2 separate regions of the Homo sapiens genome follow, and region 1 is linked to region 2. Evidence: fine-mapped expression QTL. A gene starts in region 2. The other region holds a variant in brackets. All regions are shown on one strand. Distances are from middle to middle.

What was found. PIP is the estimated chance that this variant, and not a neighbour inherited with it, causes the effect.
Region 1: its variant is the best candidate, but not a certain one, in a credible set for the expression of MRAP2 in nucleus accumbens (GTEx, PIP 0.60).

What each region holds. Positions count from the first base shown.
Region 1 is chr6:83,910,049-83,915,429 of GRCh38, reverse strand. RIPPLY2-CYB5R4 (RIPPLY2-CYB5R4 readthrough) reads right to left here. Exons shown (of 18, transcript NR_174604.1): 7 at 982-1,014. CYB5R4 (cytochrome b5 reductase 4) reads right to left here. Exons shown (of 16, transcript NM_016230.4): 5 at 982-1,014. Among named protein-coding and RNA genes, the nearest start is that of CYB5R4, 53 kb to the right of the region's middle. The variant C/T (reference allele first, on the strand shown) is at 2,533.
Region 2 is chr6:84,030,669-84,036,049 of GRCh38, reverse strand. It overlaps MRAP2 (melanocortin 2 receptor accessory protein 2), which reads right to left and starts at 2,278. Exons shown (of 4, transcript NM_138409.4): 1 at 2,167-2,278.

The DNA of each region.
Region 1 (5,381 bases), 120 kb after region 2:
TGTTATATTATCCGATGAACAACTACAGGTACTATAAATTGCATAAATTAGTCCACAATATAGACTATTTCAGTTAACAAAGAAAAAGGTAACTCATCTGGCAATCTAGCTTGTTAGTTGCATTTCTGTAACTTGCTTTTGCAAATGAAAGAAAAAAATGTTTCTAAATGTACATCAATATAGTTCAGTCAGAGTTAGCACCATGCATTTTATGTCAGTAGTGACCACCATGCCAAACTTTTTTGCGGGGGAGAGGAAGTGTCAGTCATTATTTGCAAGTCATCCAGAATGGCTGGATGCACCACTCAGCTTAAAAAATTGTAGATTAATAAACTATTTGGCATGTGTATGCAAACAATGGAGGTGAGCTCACATCTAAGAAAACTGACTTATTTTGTCTTGTTTCTGAGGAAGAAACTCCTAACTGCTACAAGTATTCAAGCTGAGGGAAGATAACATGTATTCAGGGATGTCACAGAAGGCACGACGATAAGAGTAATGGCTGGAATAAGGAGCCTATAAAACCCTACAAAAGACTCTTAAGTTTGGGCCAGTAAAGCTATCTTTCATATTAAAAAAAAAAAAAAAAAATCTAGGCCGGGCACAGTGGCTCACGCCCGTAATCCCGGCACTCTGGGAGGCCGAGGTGGGCAGATCACGAGGTCAGGAGTTCAAGACCAGCCTGACCAACATGGTGAAACCCCATCTCTACTAAAAATACAAAAATTAGCCAGGTGTGTGGTGTGCACCTGTAATACCAGCTACTCAGGACACCGAGGCAGGAGAATTGCTTGAACCCGGGAGGTGGAGGTTACAGTGAGCTGAGATGGTGCCACTGCACTCCAGCCTGGGTGACAAAGCAATACTCCATCTCAAAAAGAAAAAAAAGAAAAAAATTTAAATGCCCCAGACAATTCTGTGTATCAATACTATTCATAAGCATGTGAATATGATTCATTTATTATAAATTTATAGACTTACCATTTAAGACTTTCTTTTCCTCCTCACGATAGTCTGTATAGTGATTTAGAAAAAAAAGTCAAATAAGAATACTTTAATGTCAATGAGAATGTCAGTCCACATTACTGATTTCAAGATAACATCCCTTCTTTTTTGAAGGGCTTTCTTCTAAGGCCTGAGGAGAGAAACAGGCCAATATAGAAACGGCCTTTGTTTTAAACAAGTAAGTTTCATCTCTGAAGACTGCCAGACCATATTTCTCCAGATGTTTGTCTCTCATTTCATTTGGATTTTTTCTAATTCTTTGGTCACTTTTTTCTAATATCTTGGTTAATTTCTATATGAGCATATGTAAACGTCAAGTTTCATCCGTGTTATCATATTTTAAATTAGTCCAAGTTAACCAGAATTTATTAGATTATACTTCATAAATGAAACACACACATTAACAACTCAAAGAAAGATGCCTTATCTTTCCCTTTTACTGAGTTCAATGCATAAAATGATCGTTATTACAAGTTTAAAATATGTTCAGATTTTTGCATGTATACCCAATGCAATTATTAGTGTTACAAACCCAGGAAAAAAATTAACAGGTATTTTCTTTCAGGATGGCGGCCAACTCACAAAGCTATATTATATTCTAATATCCACAAGTGTTATACCATTATAGTCAAACTAAACACCTCAGCAAGTTGTCAAAATTTAAAAAAAAATGGGATAAGCTAACAAAAAATATTCAAGTAGTCAAATGGAAAGACATCATTTCTTAAGCTGACATCACCTTGTTTTATACAAAAAGAAACTAACGTATTTAAAATCAAAGCTTTCAAATTTTTTGTGTTCCAATATTTCACCAGAAATTCCATAATTAATTACACTTCACTCATCCATCCCAAAATAATAATAATTAAGGAAGCCAAATGACCATCCTTTTCCTTTTCCTCATTTTACCAAAATAATTTTACAGCTGAAAGGAATTTACCACATACAGCAAATTATCACCTGATCTCCTAAAAAAGGCTGAAAATCAGAGGTCAAAGGACTTGAATGAAATCTACCACTCCAGTAAAAAAGCCAAAATTAGATTTGTCTCTCCTGAAACACAGTCCCATTTTTCTTGGCAATCCAGGAGTTAATATTTCCTAAAAGGATAGTAGGCCTAAAAACCATTTAAACTATACTTCAAAATGAGCTTTGTTTATCAACTGCCACATACAAATCTGGCCATTACAGTTTGCAAAGGATCACTGATGTCCCTGCTTGGCCATGTACTTTCATCCAGTCAGTTTTATCTGTCTTTGCTGTTGCAGTTGTGATTATTTGTTTTATCTTAGAAATTCACAGAACATGTATCTATTTTCAGTGTACAATAAGGTCAACAGTTTAATAAATCTCATTTATCATGTAAAACAATTAGTTTTTACCTAAGAGGTTCACAGATTTTGAAAAATTGTCCCAGGTAATTTATTTCTAAGAAGAAAATATTATCTCTTATGATTATTTCTTGCCTGATATGAATAGATTTGAATCTGTCAGAACTTTCTGGATTCTGCAAAATTAGTAGTTCCC[C/T]CCCACCACCAAGTCTTTTTTAAATACAAGAAGTACTAGTAGAAAGAGAACTTCCACTTAAAGAATCTGGGTTACCTTTAAAAATTCTCCTACTCTGTTTTTACAACTCTTTTCAAAAACTGAGTTACAGAAATGGAGGAGACTGTTTTTCACTTTCAAGCATATTTACATCTGAATCATTTTAGTCACAGGAGATACTTTCTTCTCTGAAAAGAAATCTGATGTTTTCTCTTGGTAACTAATTCCATCATTTAGTTGGCTCCATGGCCAATCAAATTTGTATCTTCTCATAATGCTGGTTAAACTGCTTTACTCTGATGAGAATCTTTATTTCCGGAGAGGTCAGAGTCATTTAGAAGGCTGGTGCTGTGATCTAACAGCACTCAGCTCTTCCTTGGTAAGGATCTTTAATTATGACCCAAATCTAGTTTACCTCTGCTGAGCAGAGGCACAGGAGGATACCCTGGAATAAAGAAAGATCCAGTAGGAAGTTCTTTTACCAATATGCTCATTCTTTAATAAACATCTATTGATCATCTTAACAGCGATATTGACATAATACGGACATTGACATACCATTTGGATAAAAAGTTAGAAAAATAAGAAAATATATTCAGTCTGCTTATCATACATAAAGATAATTTGGAAAGAGTCACAACAACAACAACATCAACAGAAACATGTCCTTGGTGTGTGCATGGGAGAGGAAAACAGTAGATGGGAGGCAGAACTATGATAAGGATGCTTCTTCTTGAATCACATGAGTGCAATACTTATTCAAAAAATACCATAAACGGAATTAAAAATAAAGTCAATAGGCTTTTTTTTTTTTTTTTTTTTTGAGACAAGGCCTCTCTCTGTCACCCAGGCTGGAATGCAGTGGTGATATCTCGGCTCACTGCAACCTCTGCCTGGTGGGCTCAAGAAATCCTCTTGCCTCAGCCTTCCGAGTAGCTGGGACCACAGGCATGCACCACTAGGCCTGGTTAATATTTTTGTAATTTTTTTTTCTTTTTTGTAGAGACAGGGTTTCGCTATGTAGCCCAGGCTGGTCTTGAACTCCTGAACTCAAGTGATTCACCTGCCTTGGCATCCCAAAGTGCTGGGATTACAGGTGTCAGCCACCGTACCCAGATGATACGCTCTTTTTAAGATTGCGTGTGGCTGTAAAAGAGGTATACAGGAGGTGTTATTGAAGCACAGAAGAAGAACGTTTCTACTGGAAGAAATTTGAAAGGACTCTATAGAAGAAGTAGTATTTTAGCTAAGTTTTGAAAATGTGTAGGCATTTGTCAGGAGTCCTTGAAGAAAAGCATTCTAGGAAAAAAAAAATGCTGAGCATTAATTGAATGTTTTACAATTATCTTGTAGCTACATTCCTCATTCCCCTTTCTTATTCCAAAAGGTTGGTATTATGTCACCATCAGATAAGAGCTCAGTCTTGTTGCCAGGGATCTTACTCACAAAGTCCTAAATTTACCATTCTGTATTCCCTTACCTGCTTAGCCTTGCCAGAAGACTTCTTGGTTCTGTATAATGTGTTTAATAACCATTTTTTCCTCTAGAAATTCCTCCATATCTCTAAACAGAACTCTTCATAACACAACTTAGACCTGATTCTTTTTTTTAATTAAATATAATTTTTTTTTAATTTTTGTAGAGACAGAGTTTCACTATATTGCCCAAGCTAGTCTCAAAATCCTGGGCTCAAGCAGTCCTCCTGCCTTGGCTTCCCAAAGTGCTGAGATTACAGGCATGAGCCACCGCACCTAGCCAGGCCTAATTCTTGTTTTTGATTTAAAAGTCATACTTATTTCTCAAATCTTACAAAACTTAATTTTTGCAGTTTTAAACTATCTTTACCTTACTTTCTTCTATTCATCTTTGTAATCATCTTCTGAATCATCTTTCAATTTTATACATCTCTCAAACTTCTAGTTCACTAGCAGAATTAAAATGAAGACTTAATAGTTCAAATCCACATATTCTGAAAAATCCGAGGATTAAAAAGCTTTAAAAATACCAGAGTATTAATTTATCCTAGGATCAGTTTTTCCTCCATTATTCATTTAATCACAGCATATGCTGTATTTTTAGAAGTTCATATTTTCTCCCCAAGTTGGCTTCACTTGTCATTTTTTTAATCAACTCTGCAATTTGTCAGTTATTTTCCATTCCTGTCCTATCATCAGAGGGATTACGATTCCTTTCTTATCTGGAATCACCTGTACATGAATATACACATGTTCAAAATTCCTCTTTCTATGAAAACAAAACAAATGCTAACACAAACAAAACATCAGTCAGTCATACCACTACAGAAGACACACTTCCTGTTTAGGTCTGCATCTGCCCCCTAACCAGGGACTTCTTACTTCTACCTCCCATTTTTAATTACCTTTCCCTTAAATCTTTCTGGCAAGAATTACCCAGACAACGGGCCCTATAGCAGAAGGAGCAAATTAAGGCAGCCAGGCTGAGATAGCAAACTTGTCTGTCTAGTAAAGCCCACTTCAGAATGACTCCCAGCCTCCCTCTCTCCACCAGTAACCGTCTTACTTCTCCCCTATCAGTTAGTCTCTGAGCTTGTGCTTTGTCTACCTAAATTGTCTCCATTTTACCAATGAGGAAACTGAGGCTTCTAGAAGAAAGAACTTTGACTGACTTTACAAAAGTTGAACTTCCAACTGGCAGGCAGCCCATTCAATAGATGTCTTGTCCTTGCTCACAGTGCTGTGACAGTAAAAGAAATCTTTGAAAGTAATGTCTCAGCCCACTATAGGTCCTGGTGTCTATCTCCATCCTCAGCTCTACAGGTGCCAGAGTTTGCCTAGGATGAACCAAAGAGC
Region 2 (5,381 bases):
TTAAATATATTACACAAACATCATAAGAATATTGTTCTTCCAATATTTTTTGTACTCCAAGTAATGAAAACATTTCCCTTGAAAGCTAAAAAGGACAGATGTGATATTCTCTTTATACAATTTGAACTAATTTAATATGTTTGATAAAAGTTATCTATGAACTGTGACTATCAAAAAAGGTCACAGATAAATAATTCAGAGATGAATTCTGATTGGCAAAATACCTCAGCATCTGGGGGCCAACAGAAATGGGGAGGAGGAAGCGAACAGCTTTCCAGAATATGTTGATGACATAATCTGCAAGGTAAAAGAAGATGACCCCCACTGTGACCAGAATGGGGCTAGCTCAGAAGGCTGAAAGGGGGCAGCTAGCGATGGGTATGAACACTCACGCAGAGGCAGCAGGATCAGCAACACAGAACAGGACACATGCATCACCAGCGCGCGCTTCACAAAACAGTACTTTCCCTTGCTCCTGCAATGCACTCTGATATCTTATCTTTCTTTCTCTTGGCTTTCATGTTTTAAAAACTGCTATTTGCAACTCACTAAACTGATCATTAGCCTAATGAGTCACAGCCCACATTTGAAGACAATGGATACAGCATACCCTGATCTATATCCCAGTAGATTGCTAGAAAAGGGAAGGGAGTTGGTTTGGCGTAAGTATTTGTAAATGCTTCCCTAGGTAGTTTTGAGCTATCTTAAAGAATTTGTTCTAGAATGTTGCCAGGATTCAATGTTTCCCTCTTTTAAAAAGTCTCCTGGGTCCATTCTCATCTCTCATACCTGCACAAAGATGACTGTAACCGCTTTCACTACTCTAGGACGTCTGCCATTTGGGTTTTGAACAATCCAGTCCAGTTTCGGGCTTCGAGACCCTCTTTAAAGGGTTTAGGCTGGCCTCACTTTGAAAAGAAAGATACAGACTGGAAGCAACTCTTCCTTTTCCTATCACCTGTTAATATTATCTATTCTTCCATAAACACTGGATGATCTTCCTCATAAGAACGAAACTCCTTGTGGGTACCCCAGCTCACAGTGGCCTCTGGCTTTCCTGACCTTATCCTTGCAGGCCCTCGTCACTCTCCTGCACCTGTTCTTGTCTGTGTACCCCATGCAATGTACCTAAAGGAAACTAGACTCACAGTCCTAGCTTCCAGACCCCTACTCCCCACTATTACTTAACTGGGGCAGTCACCTTGGAAAACGTATTTAATATCGCAATCTAATTTTCTCTACCTGCAAACTGAAAATACTACTGTTTACTTTTGGGGTTTTCGTAAGAATTAATTTATGCATAAGAGTTCCCTTCTCTCGTCTCCCTGGACACATTCCCTCAAGCTTCCTTTGCCTTCAAAACACCAGAGTGTTTCACTGTTGTCAAACTAAATGCAGAGTAGTGGCTGAGATTCTGTGCCATCTAACATGCTGTGGAAACCACAACGCCTCCAAACAGGTTTCTGCAGAGACTACTCTTTGCCTTCCTCAATTAATTACACAGAAAGGATGGGAAAGGCACGGGGCACGGGGCGCGGGGCGGGCGGGGGGAGCGGGGGCGGGTTGCGGGGTGGGGCGGCGGGGAAAGTGTAAAACCCCTATTTCCCTCTAATCAGTAACACGACCTGCGAGCAGGCTCCCCAGTCCAAACAAAATGAATGAGCAACTGTCAAGCCAGGCATCATCTGAGAACCCTGCCCAGTGCATGGAGGCGCGCCCGGGGCCAGGAGCCAGCACATTTCCCCAGCCCAGGGGGGCTCTCTCAGTTGCAGGGCACCAAGGCGGCAGGAGGGCCGCAGCAAGGAAAGTTTTCTCACCAGCGGGAAAGGGTGTGCCTCGGCCGCTGGGGCCCAGCGGAGGGGAGGAAGCCCACCCAAGCCCCGAGCGCCGCCGCTTCCAGGCTTTTCGGACGCCCAGCGGCGTCCACACGCACATCAGCGGGCTGCCGGGAAGGTTTTAAACTTGGTGCTCTCCACGGGGTCCACACTCTTCCCGTGGGCGTCCTCACACCCCAATTCTCCTCCTCCCACCCCATTCTCTAGCCCCTCTAAACTAAAGACTGCCCCCAAACCCAAGCAAGCCCTGCCTTGACCAAAGCTGCACGCGCCCCGCACCCAGCGCCCGGGCTTTGCTCCGCCCTGGGCGCCCTGTCCCGCCCGTGGTTACCGGCTGGCTAGCCCCGGCCCGCGGGCTCGGCCCTGGTTCCGGCTCCTGGCTCCTCCGAGGTGCGCGAGCGCCGCCGCCGCCGCCGCCTCCCACCGCCCAGGGCCGGGCGAGTAGCTCCTAGATCCGAGGTGCGGCGGAGACGCGCGCTCCCGACCCGCAGCGGAGGCGGCGCGGGGCGCCGGAGCAGGGCTGCAGCGCGGGAGCCGCCTCCCCAGCGCGAGAGCCGCCTCCCCAGCGCGAGGCCGCCTTGGCCAAGAGGAGGTGAGCTTTGCAGATCCCTTTCCTGCTCACTTTGCCCCTCCGAGTCCGGGTCAGAGCCTGAGTCAGAGAATTCTTTGCCATCCCGGGCTCTGCAGTGGGTCCCTCGGGTCAACTTTGGGTAACAGGAGGAGCTCATTAGCTGAGCAAGAGGGAGTGGGGTATCATGAATCAAGGCTTATGAAAAATCGGCAGCATTGAGTTCAAGTTCAGTAAGGCCAGAGCCCCCCCATAATGTGCTGCTTAAATTACTACCTCGATTTTAGTTTCTCTTCCTGCCCACTGGTCCAGGTGTCAAAGGGCAGTCAGACGTTCAAACGGGGTCCCAAAGGGCTAGCACTGGGCCGGGAGTAGTTTCAGCATAGCAGGGCTGGCTCATCTCTTCCTCCCTTGAGTCCTTATTGCATGCCAGGCATTGATCTGGGAATACAGGTGCTTGGTGCTTGCATTCTACTAAAGAGACAGGCATAAACATAACAAATAACTAAAATACATAGTATGTGAGATAGTGATGAAGTGCGGTGGACAAAAAAGAAGGGAGGAAATGGGATAATGTTTGGAGGTAGGGGGTGCATTTTTAAATGGGATGGTCAAAGATGGCTTCACAGTGGAGTAAAGATCTAAAGGAGATGAGACAGAAAGAAGTCACGCTGGTATCTGGAGAGAAAGCACTTGCTGTGTGGCAGGCACTGAGATGTTCTTTACTGCACTAGTCATTTCTTTTACTACTCTCCATATGCCATATTAGACAGGTATTGCCACCATTTCCATTTTACTGATGAGAAACTGTAACTTAGGAAGGTTAAAGGAACTGCCCAAGGTCATATGCTAGTCAATAGAGGAGCTTGCCTTCAAGGTCAGGAAGCCTGGTGCCCCAGAACCATAGTTTAACCACCATTATACAGCAGCAGGGGAAATGCAGCACCCATGCAGGCTGGTGGCAGTGTGATGAACTCAAGCTGGTGGTGCCAAAAGAGGATTCCTGGAAATGACATCTCATCACTGATTTTTTTTTAAAAGCTCAGTTTCATTACCACTTGTAAAATGAAATATTTTGAACACCATTTTTCTTCTTCTTCTTTTTTTTAATTTTAAGTTCTGGGATACATGTGCAGAATGTACAGATTTGTTACATAGGTATACATGTGCCAGCGTGGTTTGCTGCATTTATCAACTTGTCATCTAGGTTTTAAGCCCCGCTTGCATTAGGTATTTGTCCTAATGCTCTTCCTCTCCTTGCCGCCCACCCCCGACAGGCCCCGGTGTATGATGTTCCCCTCCCTGTGTCCATGTGTTCTCACTGTTCAACTCCCACTTATGAGTGAGAACATGCTCATTTGGTTTTCTGTTCCTGTGTTAGTTTGCTGAGAATGGTGGTTTCCAGCTTCATCCATGTCCCTGCAAAGGACACAAACTCATCCTTTTTTATGGCTGCATAGTATTCTATGGTGTATGTGTGCCACATTTTCTTTATCCATTCTATCATTGATGGGCATTTGGAGTGAACAGGCAACCTACAGAATGGGAGAAAATTTTTGCAATCTATCCATCTGACAAAGGTCTAATATCCAGAATGTACAAGCAACTTAAACAAATTTACAAGAAGAAAACAACCCCATCAAAAAGTGGGCAAAGGATATGAACAGATACTTCTCAAAAGAAGACATTTATGCAGCCAACAAACATATGGAAAAAAGCTCATCATCACTGGTCATTAGAGAAAACCATCTTTATAGTGTGTGTATGTATCTTCTGCCTCATCCACAAGCAGTTTGATTCTAAATAACATAATTTGACAATCTGTGATAAGATTTATTAATCATTCCCCAAGTGTCCACACCAGTTCCAGTTGCTCATTCCTATTCACAGGGATGTGATTCCTCACCCCTGCAGTAGAGCCTCTGCCAAGTGTCTTCAGGGCATTGTGAAAAAGAGTGACAAAACTGCTGCTTCTGAGGGGCTACGGTGTGAACAGGCCAATTTCTGCCTTAGCTGTCGGCATCAGGTGGCCTTGTTCTGGGCAGAGCATCAATGGCTCCAGACAGAAAACCAGGGCACATTGTACTTTGTGAAAAAGGCAGGTCACTAACCCTTGGTTTCAGAAGCTGAAACTGCAGCATCTGGTGAAACAATGACATCAATAGGATGGCCAAGCCCACATTTCTCTCCTAGATATCTCCACCTCCTCATGGTTGCATTCATTCCTGTCTTCCTTCCTCCACTGTCAGCAAAAATCTTTTGACCTTTCCTTTGTAGGAAAGGTCTTTTCAAACACCACTTGTCCCAAAAAGCCTTCCTCATTGTCTCAGCTACAAACGAACTCTTAATCTAAAATCTGATACCTCTCTTATGGCACCTGACATTTCCTACTTTATTTTAAAATTTAGCCTATACTGTATACCTTAACTCCTCCATAGGCCAAATATTAATTTATATTTAATTTCTCCACAGGTCCTAGCATAATGTCTTCTACCCAGTAGACATTCAATGAGTATATTTTTACTGTTGTTCTTAATAAATTAATCTGCAAGAATACAGCTTCATTGTCTTTTAATTTTGTCTTTTCATTCCAAGATAACTCACAGAAATTTAGTGACAGGACTAAGTTATATGTAGCTATAGCTGTTGTTCATCAATATAAGTTGACAATGGTTTGTCTTGAGGTAAATTCCATTTGCCTTATTTCAAGATTAGAAAACAGAGGCTTTAGAGTAATCTCCCTTAGGTCACAATACTAGTCTTCAAGAGAGCCAGGATTTAAACCCAGCACCGTTTGGCTCCAAAATGAGCTCACCACAAGCTCATACTTCTCTTTCAGTCGTTCATTCAGGAATGCATTCATTTGATCTTTCAACAGATATTTGCAAACATTGACTGTGCTCAGCTCTGTCCTAGACACCAGGAAAATAGCAATGATTAAAACACAGTCCTTGTCCTCAAAATGCTCACAATCCTGT